Linked DNA regions of Homo sapiens. The protein of the gene in region 1 purifies or fractionates together with the protein of each later gene. This does not show direct contact. Each region holds a gene or a part of one and is shown in the gene's direction. Other genes may lie near its edges.

Region 1 (2,660 bases):
CAAGGTCGGTCGCCTGTCTTAGGCTAGACTCTGTCGATTGATCTGTAACTACCATTATCCACAGGCCATGACCCTTTTCCTCTTTTTTATTTTCTTTGTGTCCCCATCTAACTTCAGGGTTTCTGTATTCATTAAGTCACCTCTTTTTCTCTTTGGCATCTCCTACCCTATTTTGTTTTCAGTTCCTACTCCCATCTTGCTCATCACTCCAGGCGCTTCCTTATCCCTCTCTGACCACACCGAGTGTCCATCCCACTGCTAGGAGTGTTATCACAGGTGGTTTCTAGGTGCCCTGGTGAGGGTTCCCAACTCAGACTCAAAATGCCAGAAGCTGTGTTCTGGCTCTGTTGCTCAGTTTGGAGTGCAGTGGCACCATCTTGACTCACTGCAGCCTCCAACTTCCAGGGCTCAAGCCACCCTCCACCTCAGTCTCTTGAGTAGCACGGGACTACAGGCTCGTGTCACCACATCCAGCTAGTTTTTGTATTTTTTGTAGAGACGGATTTTTGCCATATCGCTCAGGCTGGTCTTGAACTCCTGAGCTTAAGCAATTCGCCCATCTTGGCCTCCCAAAATGCAGGGATTATGGGGGTGAGCTACTGCGCCCTGCCTCTAGGGTTCTTTTTGAGTCAGTTTTCTGTGAGTCTGTGATCGCAGCCCTTGTCTGCTGACACTTCTCTCCCCTGACTCCTGCAGGTGTGTGGGCTGTGAGGTCGTGCTGTCAGGCATTGAGGAGCAGGTGAGCCGTGCCAACCAACACAAGGAGCAGCAGCTGGGCCTGAAGCAGCAGATTGAGAGTGAGGTGAGCAGTCAGGGGAGCAGGCAGACCCAAACTCCTCCAGCCTGGGCGACTTGTCCTTTGCAGAGAGAATTTGGACAGTGGCTGTAGCAGACAACCAGATGAGCAGGGGCTGGAAGGTTCTGGAACCTTCCTTGCTATCCCCATTCCTTTCATCCTGGTAGGTTGCCAACCTTAAAAAAACCATTAAAGTTACGACGGCAGCAGCAGCCGCAGCCACATCTCAGGACCCTGAGCAACACCTGACTGAGCTGAGGGAACCAGCTCCTGGCACCAACCAGCGCCAGCCCAGCAAGAAAGCCTCAAAGGGCAAGGGGTGAGCCAGGGTAGCAGGAACTGCTCACTTGCAGGGTGCCCTGCTTTTACCCCAGGGACCTCACTGTCCTCATTTCCTTCAGTTATTTGCATGGGAGTAGGGAGTGGGGGAGCCTCCAGGGGTTAGGGGATTCCCTGCATTCTCTCTCTCTCTCTCTTTCTCTCTCTTCTCCTTGCCAGGCTCCGAGGGAGCGCCAAGATTTGGTCCAAGTCGAATTGAAAGGACTGTCGTTTCCTCCCTGGGGATGTGGGGTCCCAGCTGCCTGCCTGCCTCTTAGGAGTCCTCAGAGAGCCTTCTGTGCCCCTGGCCAGCTGATAATCCTAGGTTCATGACCCTTCACCTCCCCTAACCCCAAACATAGATCACACCTTCTCTAGGGAGGAGGCAAATGTAGGTCATGTTTTTGTTGGTACTTTCTGTTTTTTGTGACTTCATGTGTTCCATTGCTCCCCGCTGCCATGCTCTCTCCCTTGTTTCCTTAAGAGCTCAGCATCTGTCCCTGTTCATTACATGTCATTGAGTAGGTGGGTAGCCCTGATGGGGGTCGCTCTGTCTGGAGCATAACCCACAGGCGTTTTTTCTGCCACCCCATCCCTGCATGCCTGATCCCCAGTTCCTATACCCTACCCCTGACCTATTGAGCAGCCTCTGAAGAGCCATAGGGCCCCCACCTTTACTCACACCCTGAGAATTCTGGGAGCCAGTCTGCCATGCCAGGAGTCACTGGACATGTTCATCCTAGAATCCTGTCACACTACAGTCATTTCTTTTCCTCTCTCTGGCCCTTGGGTCCTGGGAATGCTGCTGCTTCAACCCCAGAGCCTAAGAATGGCAGCCGTTTCTTAACATGTTGAGAGATGATTCTTTCTTGGCCCTGGCCATCTCGGGAAGCTTGATGGCAATCCTGGAAGGGTTTAATCTCCTTTTGTGAGTTTGGTGGGGAAGGGAAGGGTATATAGATTGTATTAAAAAAAAAAAGGTATATATGCATATATCTATATATAATATGACGCAGAAATAAATCTATGAGAAATCTATCTACAAACTACCCTGAACTGGGTATCTTCTGTGTTTGATATTTGTGGATGGGAAGAAGACTCATTCCCAATTCACTCAAGCACAGTGCTGGAAAATGAAGAGACCCAGATACTATTTGCTGAGTCCCTGGCTGAGGCCTAGATCCCAAGCTGTATGGCTTTGGACAGGTTGCTCAGCATCCATTCAGAAGTAATGGATATGGCTGGGTGCAGTGGCTCACGACCGTAATCCCAGCATGTTGGGAGGCCAGGGCGGGCGTATCACTTGAGGTCAGGAGTGTGAGACCAACCTGGCCAACATGGTGAAACCCATCTCTACTAAAAATGCAAAAAAATTAGCTGGGTGTGGTGGCTCATGCCCATAATCCCCTAAGGAGGCTGAGGCAGGAGAATCGCTCGAACCTGGAAGGTGGAGGTTGCAGTGAGCCGAGATCATGCACTCCAGCCTGAGTGACAGAGTGAGACTCCATCTCAAAAAAAAAAAAAAGGCCGGGCGCGGTGGCTCACG
Region 2 (3,500 bases), on another chromosome or scaffold:
ACCATATATAATGTTTATATTACGTTCATATAAAATTGTCCTTTTACTCTTGGAATTCGACATACTGTTAGGATTTTCACAAATTAGTTTAAGGCAGAGCAGGACAAGGCCCAGAAAAGGGTGGCTGATGTAATCAGGAAACTGGGTAGGTTCTATTTGAAGATGATATAAAAAGAAATAAAACTGTTTTGAAAAAGATGGGGTCTTAAGAGAAGATAGTAAAAAAGTTTATAAACAGAGTGCTTGACCTTCTTTTCCTATTCACTCACTGCCATAAAGATAAGAGAGGGGCTTATTTAGGGGAATATAGTAAGTTTGTTAAATCCCAGCATTTAAATATTGTAAGGTACTCTTGGAGCAGGTGTTATTAAACTTTTTGGTTTCAAGATACCTTTACCATATTAATAATTACTGAGAACTCTAAAAGGCTTTTGTTTTTGTGTTATATCTATCAGTATTAGAAATTAAAACAGAAAATGTAAAAATATTTATGCATTAAAAATGTGGGCCAGGCACAGTGGCTCATGCTTGTAATTTCAGCACTTTGGAAGGACGAGGTGGGCAGATCACTTGAGGTCCGAAGTTTGAGACCAGCCTGGGCAATGTGGTGAAACCCCATCTCTACTAAAAATAGAAAAATTAGCCGGGGGTGGTGTTACGCACCTGTAGTCCCAGCTACCTGGGAGGCTGAGGCAGGAGAATCAATTGAACCCAGGAGGCAGAGGTTGCAGGGAGCTGAGATCACGCCACTGTACTCCAGCCTAGGCGACAGAGCAAGTCTTCATCTCAAAAAAAAAAAAGTGAACCCATTGCATGTTTGCGTTATTCATGAAAAATTTCCAAAATAAAACCAGATAATTTTAGCAAGTTTGAAAAAATGTCTGGCCTAATATCTCATATCTGCTTCTGTATTCAGTTTTTGTGACATCACATCATCTCTGGAAGACTCTCTTACTATGCAATGAGAGAATGAGAGTGCAAAAGGAAAGTGACATCTTATTATTACGAAAATAGCTTTGACTTCACAGGACCTTCTGAAAGGGTCTCAGACTTCTAGAGGTCTCCAGACTATACTTTGAGAAGTGCTGTTTTAGAATATTGGAAAAGTAGGTTATTATATTTATTTGGAGAATTGTTTAAAAAGTGATGATAGGCCAGGCGTGGTGGTTCATACCTGTAATCCCAGCACTTAGGGAGGCTGAGACGGGCAGATTGCTTGAGATCAGGAGTTCGAGACCAGCCTGGGCAATATGGTGAAACCCCATCTCTACCAAAAATAAAAAAAATTAGCCTGGTGTGTTGCCGCATGTCTGTAGTCCCAGCTACTAGGGACGCTGAGGTGGGAGGATTGCTTGAGCCCAGGAGGTAGAGAATGCAGTGAGCCAAGATGGTGCCACTGCACTTTAGCCGGGGCAACAGAGCAAGACTCTGTCTCCAAAAAAAAAAAAAAAAAAAAGATGACAGCTTACAAGATAACTAGAAAGGGTATAAATACATTTTTTAAACTGGTACATCTGTGTTTATTTATTTTTTTGTTGGTTTTGGAGACAGAGTCTTGCTCTGTTGCCCAGGCTGGAGTGCAGTGGCAGGATCTTGGCTCACTCCAACCTCCACCTCCCAGGTTCAAGTGATTCTTGTGCCTCAGTCTCTGAAGTAGCTGGGATTACAGACACGCACCACCAAGCCCAGCTACTTTTTGCATTTTTTAGTAGAGACGGGGTTTTGCCATGTTGGCCAGGCTGGTCTCGAACTCCTGGCCTTGAGTGATCTGCCTGCCTCAGCCTCTCAATGTGCTGGGATTATAGGCATGAAACACGGTCCGGCCTGTATTTGGATTATTGAAAAAATATGTCCTTGATTTTAAAAATTTATTTTTAGAAATAAAATTAATAAATGTTTCTGCTTTAGAATATGCAGAATCTTTTAAAGAGAAAAGAAAATTACTCTTAGCATTCACTACGTAATATTTGCAAATACACATAATTAATATTATACTTTTAATCAAATTCATCTTTTTTATGAATATTTTCAAAACATAGAAAGGCACAGAGAATAGTTTAACAACTGCTCCATCATTAACCAGGATTGGCATGTTGTTGTATTTGCTTTTGGCTCAGTTCTTTTTCTGCCTCCCCAGAGTCACCCATCTTCTGAATTTGAACCATATTCTCCCCACTCATGTTTTTATACTATATATATCTGTGTGTTCATAAATAATAACGTCATACTGCTTTGCATGTTTTTAAATTATAAATATTTTCCTAAGTTCATCTTTCACAGCTTGCTTTTTTTACCCTTATATTCTTGAGATTTATATATGTTGATATTTATTTAAAATGCTGTATTTCTATACTGCAGTTTATTCTGCCATTGATGGCTAATTTAGTGTTTTTGTTTGGTTTTTTTGGCTATTAAATAAATGGTATCATGAACCTCCTTTTGGAGGCTCTCTTGAGGATATGATGTAGAGCATCTGGTTTGTAGGGTGTCTGTGTTCTTACCTTTATTGGATATTGCCAAATTGCTTCTAAAAATGTTCATACCATTGTCATCCCCCACCAGCAATATATAGGAGCTTTCATTTCTCTACTTTTTTTTTTCTTTTTTTTTTTTGAGGCAGAGTCTTGCTCTGTCACCCAGGCTGGAGTGCAGTAGTGGTGCAATCTCGGCTTATGGCAACCTCCGCCTCCTGGGTTCAAGCGATTCTCCTGCTTCAGCCTCCTGAGTAACTGGGACTACAGGCGCCCACTACCATGCCCAGCTAATTTTTGTATTTTTAGTAGAGACAGGGTTTCACCATATTGGCCAGGCTGGTCTTGAACTCCTGACCTCGTGATCCACCTGCCCTGGTCTCCCACCACACCCAGCCGGTTTTTTCTTTTTTAACTACAAAAGACATCCAACATTTCTCTACTTTCTTGCCAGTACTTGGTATTGTCAGATTTTTAATTTTATATCTTACATTTTTTATTTTTATATCATTAATGTTGTATTTTGAACCCTTTCCCTCATTCTTTAGGGTTCTTTGAAAATGATTGTCAATGGCTGTAGTTTATGAGTGTACTATACTCTAACACATATGGTGCTCTTGTCTATGTGGGTTTTCTCATTCTTTTGCTATTTTAATGTGGCTAATGAACATCTTAATACATAAATTCTTCTGATTATTTCTTTCTTTCTTTTTTTTTTTTTTTTTGAAACGGAGTCTCACTGTGTTGACCAAGCTCGAGTGCAGTGGTGTGATCTTGGCTCACTGTAGCCTCTGCCTCCCAGATTCAAGCAGTTCTTCCTGCCTCAGCCTCCTGAGTAGCTGGGATTACAGATGCCCACCACCATGCCTGGCTGGTTTTTGTATTTTTTAATAGAGATGGGGTTTCAACATGTTGGCCAGGCTGGTCTTGAATTCCTGACCTCAGGTCATCCGCCTGCCTCAGCCTCCCAAATTGTTGTGATTACCGGCGTGAGCCACTGCACCCGGCCTGAGTCTTTTTTCTTTTCTT

What was found.
Region 2: the proteins of COPS7A (region 1) and DCAF1 purify together in Homo sapiens (affinity purification with mass spectrometry; 4 studies listed by BioGRID and IntAct, with this or other methods). This does not show direct contact.

The regions. Positions count from the first base shown.
Region 1 is NC_000012.12:6,729,706-6,732,365, forward strand, and holds the end of COPS7A (COP9 signalosome complex subunit 7a), read left to right. Parts: intron 1-696; coding exon 697-802; intron 803-963; coding exon 964-1,115; intron 1,116-1,294; coding exon 1,295-1,334; 3' UTR 1,335-2,160; downstream 2,161-2,660.
Region 2 is NC_000003.12:51,423,516-51,427,015, reverse strand, and holds part of DCAF1 (DDB1- and CUL4-associated factor 1), read left to right. Parts: intron 1-1,007; exon of another isoform or gene 1,008-1,106; intron 1,107-3,500. UniProt on the Homo sapiens protein: Acts both as a substrate recognition component of E3 ubiquitin-protein ligase complexes and as an atypical serine/threonine-protein kinase, playing key roles in various processes such as cell cycle, telomerase regulation and histone modification.